Homo sapiens: one gene and its partner. The protein of the gene in region 1 interacts with the protein of each later gene in a biochemical or structural test. Each region holds a gene or a part of one and is shown on either strand. Other genes may lie near its edges.

Region 1 (7,401 bases):
GCTAATATTCTGCCTTCTCCTCACCTCTCCCATACATACACTGTTACTCTGTGTGTATATGTTTTAACAAGCAAGGAAAAATCAAGTTAATTAGATGCAAAGTTTAAAACATAATCATGCCTAATATGTCTGCTGTGGTCTGAATTCTGTCTCCCTAAATTCATATGTTGGAATCCTAACCCCCAAGGTAATGGTATGAGGAGGTGGGGCCTTTGGGAGGTGATTAGATCACCAGTTAGTGCCCACATGAATGGGATTAGTGCCCTTATAAAAGAGACTCCAGAGAGCTGCCTGGCCCCTGCCACCATGTGTGAAAACAGTGAAAAGGTGACTTAGGAAGAGCCCTCACGAGACACTGAATCCACTGGGGAACTGATTTTGGACTTCCCAGCCTTCCAAACTCTGAGAAATAAATTTCTGTTGCTGACAAGCTACCTAGTTTATGGTATTTTGTTACAGTAGATTGAATGGGCTAAGACAGTATCTTGCTAGCCTCATTTCCTACTACACATCTCCATTCTTGCATCCTTCCATGCTATATAAGGGTAATACTACTTCCTACAATGCATCCTAATTCCTTCCTACTTTCTTTCTTAAAAAAAAAAAAATCCCTGTGAGGGGATCCTTTCTACTTGCTACTCACATTCACAATGAGGCATTCTTCCCCTTCCCAAAATGATCTATATAAATCCTATTCAACTTTCAGGCCCAGCTCAAAGGACACTTTTAGATCCTAAATACCTCAAAGGGGAGTTCATAACTCCTCCCTCTCATACATTCATTCTCAATGGAAGGGCCCACACTTTCAAAAATCTAGCAGTGTAATGTCTTAGGTAGGATAGCTCTTTATTCTGAAAAGTATATCATCATACCTCACTCAATATCATTTTTGCATCAAAATTAAGATTCTCTGCCCAGGCGTGATGGCTCATGCCTGTAATTCTAGCACTTTGGGAGGCCAAGGTGGGAGGATGGCTTGAATCCAGGAGGTCAAGACCAGACTGGGCAACACAGCAAGACTCCATTTCTACAAAAAGTTTTACAAATTAGCGGGGCACGGTAGTCCGTGCCTGTGGTACCAGCTACTTGTGAGGCTGAGGTGGGAAGATCACTTGACCTCAGGAGTTCAAGGTTGCAAAGAGCCATGATTGTGCCACTGCATTCCAGCCTGGGCCACAGAGCAAGATCGTCTCCAAACAACAATTCTCAAACTCACTCTTTCTGTGTAGTCCACTAGTTACCTCAAATTTCAGTTTAAGTTTATATTAGTCAGGTGGGAAATGAGACCATAAAGTGAATCATTCAAGCACCTAGCTGGCCTGGGCACTTGGAATAATAAGTAAGGAACGGTTGCTACCTAGAACTTACATTCCACAGGGAGAAACAGGTTAGCATACAACAACAGTGTGTGAAAGTGAAGGAGACAAACACAGGAAAATGACAGACTAAAAATGCAGGAGTGAGTTAGGGAAAATTCATAGATTAAATAATTTTATAGTATATTACTTTTCTAAAAAACTGCTGGAGGGAAAAAAAGAAACTGACTAACCTCCTAGGGGAACATAATTATCAGGACTTAGTTTTGCCTTATTCCTCCCAGAGACCAAAATTTAGCTTGTTGCATATGATGGAGCAATGTTTTCAATAAATGTACAGCAAACCACTTATAACCCAACTCAATGAAAAAACCAACTGAAGCCTCAACCTATTTTCAGACAGAAAGAAAATTTGCAAATATAAGGTTCTCCCAACTAAAGGCAGACAGGGCAAAACAAATGAACTCTTTAGAAGGTTTAAAGAGACTGTCACAACCTGCCAACCTGATTGTCAGTCCTCAAATGCCCTTGGTCTCTGCCTCCAAATGAAAACAAATCATTTGTTTTTAGTAATAATAGCCAAGCTTGTAAATAAGTATTTTTAAACTTCTCCAACTGCACCTCCACATTAAAAGATGCTCAAAATAAAAAAAATTCAAAACATTTTTTAGCTATTTCTGTCAAAAGACTAGATCTCTCCTGAGGTCACAGTATGCATGCTGGCCCTCACTTCACTGCTCTGTAACACACCACCACTTCGATTTTGCAATGACACTAGGTGAATAGGCTTCCAGGATCTCTTCAATGCCTCCAAAAACGAAAAGGAAGAAGCAAACCTATAAATCCCTATCTGCCCGCCCTACAGCTCCCGGGAAGCAACAGTCCTCAAATTGTTCCTGCTTAGACCCCTGAAGCCCGTAGAAGGAAATGGGGACAGCTGCGACGGCGAACCGAGCGAGGACATCCGATAAGGGAAGAGGAAACGTGGATGGAAGAGGACGAAGGGGAGAAGGAACACGGAGAGAAGGGGGCAGTGGAGATAAAATGGTGAAGAGGGGTGAGAAGAGCAAGGAAGAGCAGCGAAAACTAGGGAGGAAAGGGGGGAAAGTAAAAATCACATAAGAGGAAAAAAGGCAAAATGATAGAGGAGAAAGAAAGGAAGGGTTAGGGTTAAAGGACAAGGAGTGGGCGACAAAGGGAATGCGAAAAAGGCTGTCACTGGGGGTGATAAAAAGGATGTCATCGGGGAGAAGGGAGATTCAGGGGGTGTCACCTAAAGGGGTTCACCGAAGCAGGTGAATGGGGAAGGAGGAGCTGAACACCGAGGGGGCGGTAACGAGGGAGAGAGGTAAAGGCAGGGAGCCCGAGGGGACACCAGAGACAGGGAGGGGCAAGACCGCAGGGGCCAGCGCGACGGGCGGGGGCTAGGGTGGCGGGCGGCTGCGGCTAGGGCAGGCCTTGCTCCCTCACCATGGCTGCGCCGGCCTGGTCCTCGGGCATGCAGCCTCCGTCCTGGGTGCGGCGGCGGGCCGGACCGGAGCCCGCCCCCAGGCTGAGCCGGCGCGGAGGCTCCAGGAGGCTCCGGCGAGCGGCGGCTCCGGGCTTGGCCCAGGCCTCGGCCTCTTTCCCTCAAGCTAGGAGCGTAGCAGTAGCAGCCGCAGCCGCAGCCGCAGCCGCAGCCCGAACCAGAGCGCAGACTCCGCCCCCGCGAGGACCCGCCCGGGCGCGCGAGCCCGCGCCTGGACCCGCCTCCGCTCTCAATGCGCAGACTCAGACGAGGGGGTCCCGCCCCCCCCAGCCCGACCTCCAGCTTCTCCCCCTCCCAGGCCCTTAAAGGAGCCACACACCCCCAAATCCTAGCATCCCTTCAAAATATGAAAAGCTTTAAATATTACATCATGACGAGAGATTAGAGCATCGCTCACTTCGGTCACCTATAGACTCCTCTGTCATTCACCATCATTCTCTAAGATTTGGGCTTCTGGTTCACTGTCATTCATTACTACTATTGTCATAACTCTTGGTTATTTCAAAATTCGCTTAATTCTTCCAATCCTCTGGCCTCTCAGATTCTTCTCTAGGGATCATTCTTGGCTCAGCCTCTCACTCTCATGCTCATACGAATAATTGTAACTTCTCTACAATCTCAATTTTAATCCTCTAACTCCCATTGCAACCTTCTTCCTTTCTTTCTTTCTTTCTTTCTTTCTTTTTTTTTTTTTTTTTTGAGATGGAGTTTCGCTCTTGTTGCCCAGGCTGGAGTGCAGTGGTGCGATCTTGGCTCACTGCAACCTCCACCTCCCGGGTTCAAGTGATTCTCCTGCCTTAGCCTCCCGAGTAGCTGGGATTACAAACACCCGGCACCACACCCGGCTAATTTTTGTATTTTTAGTAGAGAAGTGGCTTCACCATGTTGGCCAGGCTGGTCTCGAACTCCTGACCTCAGGTGATCCGCTTGCCTTGGCCTTCCAAAGTGCTGGGATTACAGGCGTGAGCCGCTGCGCCCGGCCACAACCTTCTTCCTTTCTAGCTCACTCTGTCTGATAATACTCCAACTCCAAAAACTTCAACTCCAAGACCCCAAATCCATTGATCCAACTACCTTTTCGCTATTCCTCCCCACGCTGGCCTTATGTACTCACTTTCTTCCTGAAACAGCTTAGATTCTATCGTCCGTCATGAAATGGAATCTAATAGAATCTAAGCTGTTTGGGGAAGAAAGTGAGTACATGAGGTACATGAAGTCGATTTCTTCAGTATTACCTTCATTTCTCTAGTCGTTCTCTGCTTTCTTTGTACTGACAGAACTCCAGCAATGGAGTGGGTGGAGAAAAAGCCAAAAGTGGTTGACTGACTCCCCGTAAATTTGAGATCATTATTCTCAAGAGGCCATAATGAGTGGCTACCCTACCACATTTCTCCAGTTTCACACACTCTCCCACCTTGCTACATAACTATTTCAAGTCTCCTGTCTCTTCAAACCTCCGACACTTCCTCCCTCATCTCATTTAGCTGATGATTTTGCTTCTAATTCACAAGAAAATCAAACAAACCAAAAAGAACATCTACAAGTTCCCAGCACCCACCATGACTTCCAACGAACCTGTAACTCTGCTTTGATGCTCTCTCTGCCTTCCTTTCCTTACTACAAGTTAATTATTTGTCTTTTAGCTAACATCAAATCCTCCTCAGTTCTCAAGCATCTGTGCTAAAAGACCCAGATTTTATCCCCAATCACAAAACTAAATTTCTGTAAAATACAATCAAAATTAATTACTAGAAAAAATTAAAATTTAAAAACAAGCATCCAAAATGCAAGCCCAGATTTTTTAAACCTGCTTAACCATTTTAAAGTGTACAGTTCAATGGTATTAAATACATTCACATTGTTGTGCAACCATCCCCATCAAGAAGCTCCAGAACTTTTTATTTTTTCTTTTATTTATTTATTTATTTATTTATTGAGACAAGTTCTTACCCTGTCACCCATCAGGAGTACAGTGGCACAATCACGGCTCACTCAGCCTCAAACTCCTGGGCTGAAGCGATCCTCCCACCTCAGCCTCCTAAGCAGCTAGAACTACAGGCACATACCACCACGCCTGGCTACCTTTTTTTTTTTTTTTTTTTGTAGAGACAAGGTCTCACTGTGTTGCCCAGGTTTGTCTCAAACTCCTAGGCTCAAGTAATCCTCCTGCCACAGACTTCTAAAGTGCTAGGATTACAGACGTGAGCCAATGTGCCAGGCCTCCAGAACTTTTTTATCTTGCAAAGCTGAAAGCTTGTACTCATTAAACAATAACTCCCCATTCCTAACTTCCCCCAATCCCTCGCCATCACTGTTCTGCTTTCTATCTCTATGAATTTGACTACTCTAGGCAGAATTTTTATTATTAAACCCAACACGCGTAACATTTTTCTGTCAAATTGTTATAAAAGTTTCAAAATATTAATTCTGAATTGCTGTCACAAACTGGTGAAAAACCATTTCTAGATGGTCACTAGTCCATTGATGACACTTTGAGGAGCTCAAGTACTAGGTCTCATACCACGTCACTTTCTCAAAGACACCTATCCAGCAATTCTTCCTCTCACCTACATCGCTATTTTTCTGCTATTACCTCTCATTGCTATAGCAACATGATTTTATTTCTTCCATCTTAAAACAATCAAACAAAAAAACCCTCCTTAGGTTGCAGTGAGCCAAGATCACGCCACTGCACTCTAGCCTGGGCAACAGAGCGAGACTCCACCTCAAAAAAAAAAAAAAAACCCTCTCTTGACTGGACTTGACCCCCCACCTACTGCCCCATTTCTCCATTCTCTTTTCTGCAAAATGTCTCACAAAGGTGGCTTGTACATGGTCTCACTCTGTTGCTTAGGCTGGAGTGCAGTGGTGCGATCTCAGCTCACTGCAACCTTAGCCTCCTGGGTTCAAGCAATCCTCCCACTTCAGCCTCCCAAGTAGCTGGAACTACAGGCATGTGCCACCACGTCCAACTAATTTTTGTATTTTTTGTGGAGATGAGGTTTCATCATGTTGCCTAGGCTGGTCTTGAACTCCTGAGCTCAAGCAATCTGCCTGCCTTGGCCTCCCAAAATGCTGAGATTACAGGCATGAGCCACCTCGCCTGGCCTTGACTTCCTTTTTCTCATTTTCGGTGAGATCCTCTCTGGTTAAGCTTTTACCTCCTCCACTCCACTGAAATGCCCTTGTCAAGGTCACTAGTGGTGTCCATTTGCTGACACCAGTCAATTCTCAGTCCTCGTGTTACTTGACCTACCAACATCACTAGACACAGCTCATTACTTCCCCCTCCTTGGCTACCATGACATTTCACCCCCTCGGGTCTTCTATCTCACTGGCTGCTCCTAGTTTCTCCTCATTTCTCTGACCTCTAAATACTGTAGTACCCCAAGGCTCAATATTTCGACTTTTTGTCTTTTGCATGTACACTCCTTGATAATCTTATCCCAACACATTACTTTAAATATTATCTATGCTGTGATAACCCCAAAATTATATCTGCATTCTGAATTTCATACTTAAATATCTAACTGCCAGCTAAACATATCCCCTTATATGTCTAGTAAGCTACAATTTTTCTTAGTAGTTACTCAATAGACTTCCCCTCAAGTACCATGGATAAGCCAATAAATACCAAAGAGAATAGGACCAACAATAGTAGCTTAGACCAATCATGATTTACTCTCCGTCTGATCTGTGAGTTACTTTCCCTAAGGACTTCCTTGTAGTGGAGGAAAATCGTCATTAAAAATTAGAGTTCTGGGCTGGGTGTGGTGGCTCAGGCCTGTAATCCCAGCATTTTAGGAGGCTGAGGTGGGTGGATCATGAGGTTAGGAGATCAAGACCAGCCCGGCCAACATGGTGAAACTCCATCTCTACTAAAAATACAAAAGAAATTAGCTGGGTGTAGCGGTGCGCACCTGTAGTCCCAGCTACTCAGGAAGCTGAGGCAGGAGACTCGCTTGAACCCGGCAGGCGGAAGTTGCAGTGAGCCAAGATCACTCCATTGCACTCCAGCCTGGGCGACAGAGAGGGACTCCTTCTCAAAAAAAAAAAAAAAAAAAAAGAAAGAAAAAAAAATTAGAGTTCTAGCCAGCCAAGGTGGTTCACACTTGTAATCCCAGCACTTTGGGAGGCCAAGGCAGGCAGATGGTTTGAGACCAAAAGTTTGAGACCAGCCTGGGCAAAATGGCAAAATCCCATCTCTACAAAAAAATACCAAAAAGTAGCTGGGCATGGTGGTAGTTTCAGCTACTCAAGAGACTGAGGTGGGAGGATCACCTGAGCCCTGGAGGTCGAGGCTGCTATGAGGCATCATCACGCCACTGCACTCCAGCCTGTGTGACAGAGTAAGACCCTATCTCCAAAAATAAATAAATAAATAAGAGTTCTGCAATCAAGAAAGAATGGAGTCACAGTTGATTTGCTTGATTTGCAATCAATGAAGCACAAACAGATCAAAAATACATCCAAATTACCTAGGAATTTAGTATAATACTGAAGGTAGCATTTCAAGTCAGAAAGCAAAAGTTGGAATTGTATTTGGTGTTAGAATAA
Region 2 (7,403 bases), on another chromosome or scaffold:
CACGTCATCAGGACCTCCTGAGGCTGTGTCATGGGTGCATTTTAACCTTGGCAAAATAGATTTCTAAATTCATTGAGACCTAGTAGATACTTTTGGATCACAAGCTCATGAACACAGAAAAGATCAAGATAGAATAAGGAAAAAATGAGTATAATGGAAAGCACAAATCAGTTCCAAAATCTCAACTCCTTCATATTTATTCACCATAGGGAAATGCTTTACAACTTTGTGGGATTAGAGTCCATTTGTGAAAGATTTTATATATATATATATAGTTTGTTTTGTTTTGTTTTTTGAGACGGAGTTTCAATCTTGTTGCCCAGGCTGGAGTGCAATGGTGCGATCTCGGATCACTGAAACCTCTGCCTCCCAGGTACTACGGATTCTCCTGTCTCAGCACCCCAAGTAGCTCAGATTACAGGCATGCATCACCATGCCCGGCTAATTCTTTTGTATTTAGTAGAGACTGGGTTTCATTATGTTAGTCAGGCTGGTCTTGAATTCCTGACCTCAGGTGATCCACCTGCCTCAGCCTCCCAAAGTGCTGAGATTACAGGTATGCGCCACTATGCTGGGCCAAAAGATATATTTCTAGTATTAGATTGAAATAAAAACCCATTCTATATAACTTTAGCTAATTTAAAACGCAAATAATAGATAATTACATAGATACACAAAACTTTATAATATTTCACTTAGTATTGCTATTACTATGTTCTTGGGGCAGAAGCTCAGTCTGTCAGATACATTACAAAAGGATGGTGTCTCCATAATTGTGCTTAGGACTCTGGTGCATAAGTGGATAAACTGTTAAACAGGATCCTAGGGGAGCTAGGGTGACAAAGTTCAAGTCCATTAAAACTAGCAACATACATTCCTTACTGCTCACGCATGACTCATGGTCTTAAGATGTTTACAGTTAAGAAAAGCAGCTTAATCATACCTGCAAGGACAAACTCCTACATAAACACAATGTCCAGATGACCCAATATCCCATGACAATGTATGCTTCTAAGCTAATTACAGTCATGCTTTCACGTACTTGCACACTAAAATACCAAGGATAGGTGTTTTTTTTTTTTTGATGGAGCTTCACTTTTGTCATCCAGGCTGGAGTGCAATAGGACAATCTCGGCTCATTGCAACTTCCACCTTCCGGGTTCAAGCGATTCTCCTGCCTCAGCCTCCTGAGTAGCTAGGATTACAGGCATGCACCACCACCCCCGGCTAATCGTTGAATTTTCAGTAGAGACGGGGTTTCATCACGTTCGCAAGGCTGGTCTCGAACCCCTGATCTCAGGTGATGCCCCCACGTCGGCCTTCCAAAGTGCCAGAATTACAGGCGGGAGCCAATGCAACCGGCCAAGGATAGCTTTAAATCAACAAAGTAATAAGTTTTGTTACACTGTCAGCCCACTGGCAGGTAGACATACCTTAGTTTTTACCTAAGCACCTATGTAAGAGAAACTTTAAGAGAAGGCAGTTCCCTTTGTTTTTGAGGTCGCCCTACTGTGTAACTGGTAGTTTTCTTTTTTTTTTCTTTTTTTTTTTAAGACGGAGTCTCGCTCAGGCTTGAGACACCTTGTCCAGCTGTATTTTTTATTATTATTATTATTATTATTATTATTATTATTATTATTATTATTTTGTTTTTGAGACTGAGTTTCACTCTAGTTCCCTGGGCTGGAGTACAATGTCATGATCATGGCTCACCACAGCTTCCATTTTCTGGGCTCAAGCGATTCTCCTGCCTCAGCCTCCGGAGTAGCTGGGACTACAGGCTCATGCCACCACTCCAGGCTAATTTTTATATTTGTAGTAGAGACGGGGTTTCTCTATATTGGTCAGGCTGGTCTCGAACTCCCGACCTCAGGCCATCCGCCGTCCTCAGCCTACCAAAGGGCTGGGATTACAGGCTTGAGCCACCGCGCCCGGCCTGAAGTAGAATATTTTAGAAAGTAATTAAACCTTTTTTCAGCATAATAACCCAGAGATGTACTTCTGAAGGACTTAGAATCTCTTCTTGAAAGGCAAGCAACAAGGGAGATAGTACCTGTAAGTCAGTAGGAAATTAAATATTTCAAACATCAGCTATTTCAAATTTAAAGCTACAGACTTTTAAATAATTCGGAACCTTGAGAGGAACGTGGTCATGCAACCTGAGTCCGGTGGCATGCAGGCGCAACTTCTACAAGTTTTCCTGGCCAGGCATGCAGGCTCAGGCCTGTAATCCCAGCACTCTGGGAGGCTGAGGCGGGCGGATCGCCTGACGTCAGGAATTAGAAACCAGCCTGGCCAACATGGGGAAACCCCGTCTCTACTGAAAATACAAAGCCATTAGCCGGGCATGGTGGCGCACGCCTGTATTTTCAGCTATTTGGGAGGCTGAGGCAGGAGAACTGCTTGAACCCAGGACGTGGAGGTCGTAGTGAGCCGAGATCACATCACTGCATTCCAGCCTGGGCGACAGAGCAGGACGCCTTCCCAAAACAAAACAAAACAAAACAAAATGTGCTATACAATTTAGTTTCCTAATATCAATTTTAAAAAGTTTTCGTGTAAATAATTAGGAAAACTAAGCAGCCCCAGAGATAAGACCTCCTGGCATCATTGTCCCTTCTTATGGAGTGATAATGTAACCTTCCTTGAAGTGTATCACTCCATCACCAGTCAAGCTGCCGCAGCCTATGCACTGGACTTGAATGGAAAATGTGGTGGTTCTGGGAAAGCTTCTCTGTATTTCCTTGTGTGTGTGAAATGTTAATGTCTCTACTTGGGAACGCTGACCCCATTCATTTGGAGTTGAGGTTTCCAGGTGGCTATTCTCATGCTTTGTGTCCAAATAAACTCTATAATTAATAATGTATTCTAAATTTCATTATTTACTGCTGACATCAGTTTCTGTTGGATTGTAGGAGCCTCACCAGAGAGGGCACCTGTCCGCCATGCTGTAAAACTCACACTTGCCAAAAATACATGGGTTAGGGTTTCTCCCCCTCCCTCAGGATGATGCTAGTTAGCTGACACAGATGGTCACCTCCATTACCAAGTAGAGCCAGGATGAATTATGTGTGACCAAGGGTGTTGTCAAGTCCTCTTCCCTGAGGACTGATCAGTGTTTATCTTGAAAACATGTATTTGGGTTGTATAGAACAGTGAAGTTTCTTTCTCTCTTTTCAACCTCTCAACTGTCCTCTATTTCCCATCACATGCTGGTCTAAGGCCTATTTATTAATAAAATAGTTTTTATTTCTTTCTCTGTTATCGTCGTGAAGATGATTTCTCATTTAGGGGAAGATTTTTTTAGTTTTCAATTGTATTTTCTCAACATTTAAGAGCGAAGTGAAGAGTATTTCTTGGGCCAGGCACAGTGGTTCACGCCTGTAATCCCAGCATTTCAGGAGGCCGAGGCAGGCGGATCACTTGAAGTCAGGAGTTCGAGACCAGCCTGGCCAACATGGTGAAACCCCGTCTCTACCCAAAATACAAAAATTAGCCGGGCATGGTGGCCTGTGCCTGTAATGCCAGCTATTCCGGAGGCTGAGGCAGGAGAATCGCTTCAACCCAGGAGGCAGAGGCTGCAGTGAGCCGAGATGTCACCACTGCACTCCAGCCTGAGCGACAGAGAAATACTCCGTCTTAAAAAAAAAAAGAAAAGAAAAAAAAGAAAGTAATAGATCTCTTCCACAAATGTGCTGGGACAATTAACTGGATATCCACATGGAAAAGAATAATGTTGTATCCCTATCTCACACAATCAAAATTTTATTTTAAAAATTAAAAGAGACGATGAGGGGAGCCCTGCGGGAGGGTGTGTTACTTTGTCGCCCAGGCTGGCCTGGACCCCCAGGCTCAGTGATCCTCCCGCCTCTGGCCCTCAGGCTCCCGCCCACCTGGCCGCATTCCTGCTATGTTTAAGCAGTAGGTGGTGACTTCACTCCTCCCTGGCCTGAACACTCCGTCGCGCATCCCAGGCGGAGGCCCTAGGGAAGTCTCTGAAGCTGAGCACAGGGTGGACTCTCCCTCCTGAGTGAATGGAGAATAGAAAGGGAGAGGATTTCTGTTCTGTTCTGTGGGCCGTCAGCATGAAATTGTACGTTCCGCCCAGGCAGGGCTTTGCATTTTACATTCTTGTTTGCATCCCCGTTCCAGACAATTCCAGGGCTTTCGAATCGTGCTTCAGCCTTCCTGACCGCTCTCGCCTCCAAAGCCCGAAAAATAGAGTCGCTGGGAGCGAGGCTGAGAGACGCACAGGTCCCGCCCCGGCCCCGCCCTCTGCCGGTTCTAAAGGGCAAGGTCTCTCCGCCTGGGGCCCCGCCTCTACCTCGATCAGGCCCCGCCCACCTTCTCGTTGGCTCCACCCAGGCCTGGCTTTAGTCCTGTGCGCACACATCCGCGCAGACCAGGAAGCGGATCCCGTGGAGTGAAGGTCGCACCGCGGCGGTGAGTTTTGCTCTGTGTTGTATTAAGTCTGCACTCCCCATATCCCCGGCACTTCCGTACCTGGGACGTGGGGTCACCACAGACCTGTAAATTCTCGCCCATCTTCCTTCAACCAGAGCAAATGCAGACGTTCCCCTGGGAATCCGGAAGTCGCTTCCTTTTGTGTTTAAAGTCGCCCTGAGGCTGTTCCCGTCTCCAGTCTTTCTGCTACAGGGCGCTGTATACACTTCCTATCGCGTAGTTTCTGTGCTCAAAACCGTTTTTTAACTCCTCCCTCCCCGCGCTTTTCAAAGTCCTCACCCGAGATGTGTATTTCCGCCTGGGCGCCTCCCAGTCTCAACCTTTAGGCGCCTGAAGCGCAAACGTCGCGATCCCAGTCTCAGGGAGGCCGAGTTCTCTGCCTGGTGCTGGGATCTTGTGGACCCCACCGAAGGCGTCGTCGCACCCCACCTCCCGCCTCATGCTGGGCCTTGCTGCACCCCAAGTCTCCCCTTAGCAGTCACCACTTTCCTTGAGCCAGCGTTGGGGAGGTGCCAGGGGCCAGTCCTGTGACACGGTGTGTTCTTGCCTGCCTAGCTCCAACCCCTGAAAAATGAGCCTCTCTGGGATGCAGGCGTCTTACTTCAAACCCTCCTGTGATTGTGTGGGCTAAAGAGATCAGGAGACAGAGAGTAGTAGAAAACCTGAGACAGAGAAAAGAAGAATGAGAAAGACCCATAACAGATGGCAAAGTAGAGGATGGGTGAGGGATTTGCCAAGAGACAGCAAAAGTGAAAAAAAAAAGATAAGAAAGCAGGAGGAGAAAAGCAACTGGAGAAATGTAGAGAAAAGCTAGATGTACAGAGAGATGAAGGACAGACAGCAAGGTAGAGAGGGGCAGCAAAGAGGGAGGCTCATCAGAGTGAGAGAGAGAGAGAGAGAGAGGAGGAATTTGGAGCCAGGGCAGACAGAGCAGAGTGGTGCTGGTGGCAAGGAGAACAGAGGGAGAACCACAGCAGGGAGGACGCCTGGGGATCTGGGGTGCTAGAGAGTGGGGACGGGGGGTAAAACAGAGAAGAGAGAATTTAACAGGGAGAGCGGCAGAGATGCAGAGATGGGATAAGAGGCGGAAATATATGGAGATTGAGGACGATCGAAGAATTGGGGAGAAGGAGCAACAAGAGATTAAATAAGACGTGAGGATGGAGCCCAGGTAATTTTTGTATTTTTAGTAGAGACGGGGTTTCACCATGTTGGCCAGGCTGGTCTCGAACTCCTGACCTCAGGTGATCCACCCGCCTCGACCTCCCAAAGTGTTGGAATTACAGGCGTGAGCCACCGCACCTGGCCACCCAAGCATTCTTGATTGAAAAAGTTTGCTTATGTCTTAGTTCTACAGCTGACCCTCTTTCCCTGCTTTTTGTTTGTTTGTTTGCTTGTTTGTTTTGAGATGCACTTTCGCTCTTGTTGCCCAGGCTGGAGTGCAATGGTGTGATCTTGGGTCACCGCAACCCTTTTTGGTTTTTTTTTTGAGACGGAGTTTCGCTCTTGTTGCCCGTGCTGGAGTGCAATGGTGCGATCTCGGCTCACTGCAACCTCCACCTCCCGAGTTCAAGCGAGTCTCCTGCCTCAGCCTCCCTAGTAGCTGGGATTACAGGCATGTGCCACCACACCAGGCTAATTTTGTATTTTTAGTAGAGATGGGGTTTCTCCATATTGGTCAGGTTGGTCTTGAACTCCTGACCTCAGGTGATCTGCCCACCTCGGCTTCCCAAAGTGCTGGGATTATAGGCATGAGCCACCGAGCCCGGCCTACTCACCACCACCTTTACCTCCCGGTTTTAAGCGATTGTCCTGCCTCGGCCTTCCTGAGTAGCTGGAATTACAGGCAAGTGCCACAACATCTAGATAATTTTTGTATTTTTAGTAGAGATGGGGTTTCTCCATGTTGGTCAGGATGGTCTCGAACTCCCGACATCAGGTGATCCGCCTGCCTCGGCCTCCCAAAGTGCTGGGATTACAGGTGTGAGCCACCGCACTCAGCCTCCCTGTTTTGAAGGTAACTAGCTGTGTCTTTGTACATCTGCATTTTATAAATGTTACTGTAATTTTCTTGTGAGGAAGAATTAAATGTTGGGAATCAGTGGCATCAGAACTTGCAAAGGAAGTTTCTTTATCCCAGGTATGTGAAAGAGGCTTCTCTAATTTTCAAGGATAGTTTTGATAAGGCCAACCCTTTCCTTTATCCCTTCCAGGCCACCATGTAAGAATTCCGTTACATCTTTTCACTCATCTCAGACCTTCTCAGCGTGACTCGGTGAAAATGTCCCCGTTCTGAGGATGTCACAGCTAAATCTAAAGCAGATCATGTCAGTCCCTGGCAGGGAACCCTCCATGGGCTTCCTGTGTTCCCCAGGACAAAAGCCCAACTCCTCACTGTCACTCCACAGCCCTGTGTCCAGGGCCCCTGCCACTGTCCAGGCTCCTCCTGGGAACTTGCCCTCATCTCATGACTCCCTCTGCCCCAGTCACATTTGCTTTTCTCTTTTCCCAAACATCAAAACCCTTCCCGTCTCAGGTCATTTTCACTGCTCTTACCCTATTTCTCTAAATGCTCACAGCACTGTCCCTTTCTCCTTCAGGTCCTGGCTCAGAAATGTCTCCCATGCCCTCCCACCCCCAACTGAATTTCCCTCTGCCCATCAGTCTCTATCACATTACTCAGGTTTTATTATCTCTGTGTCAGTCACATCAGAAACACACTTTTTTTCTTTTTCCAAAGAGTCTCGCTCTGTCCTCCAGGCTGTGAGTGCAGTCTTGTGATCTTGGCTCACTGCAACCTTTGTCTCCTGAGTTCAAGCAATTCTTGTGCCTTAGTCTCCCAAGTAGCTGAGATTACAGGTGTGTGCCACCATACTCTGCTAATTTTTGTATTTGTATTTTATTTTATTTTTGAGTCTTACTCTGTTGCCCTGGCTGGA

Evidence for each region. Proteins that work in one complex are often made in the same cells at the same time.
Region 2: the proteins of ZYG11B (region 1) and ZNF701 interact in a test that uses a peptide from one of them, tested with the Homo sapiens proteins (2 studies listed by BioGRID, with this or other methods).

What each region holds. Positions count from the first base shown.
Region 1 is NC_000001.11:52,722,069-52,729,469, reverse strand, and holds the start of ZYG11B (protein zyg-11 homolog B), read right to left. Parts: upstream 3,018-7,401; 5' UTR 2,817-3,017; coding exon 2,787-2,816; intron 1-2,786. UniProt on the Homo sapiens protein: Serves as substrate adapter subunit in the E3 ubiquitin ligase complex ZYG11B-CUL2-Elongin BC. Acts to target substrates bearing N-terminal degrons for proteasomal degradation with the first four residues of substrates being the key recognition elements.
Region 2 is NC_000019.10:52,565,888-52,573,290, forward strand, and holds the start of ZNF701 (zinc finger protein 701), read left to right. Parts: upstream 1-4,399; 5' UTR 4,400-4,443; intron 4,444-4,776; exon of another isoform or gene 4,777-4,999; intron 5,000-6,349; exon of another isoform or gene 6,350-6,354; coding exon of another isoform or gene 6,355-6,481; intron 6,482-6,677; exon of another isoform or gene 6,678-6,791; intron 6,792-6,805; exon of another isoform or gene 6,806-7,323; intron 7,324-7,403. UniProt on the Homo sapiens protein: May be involved in transcriptional regulation.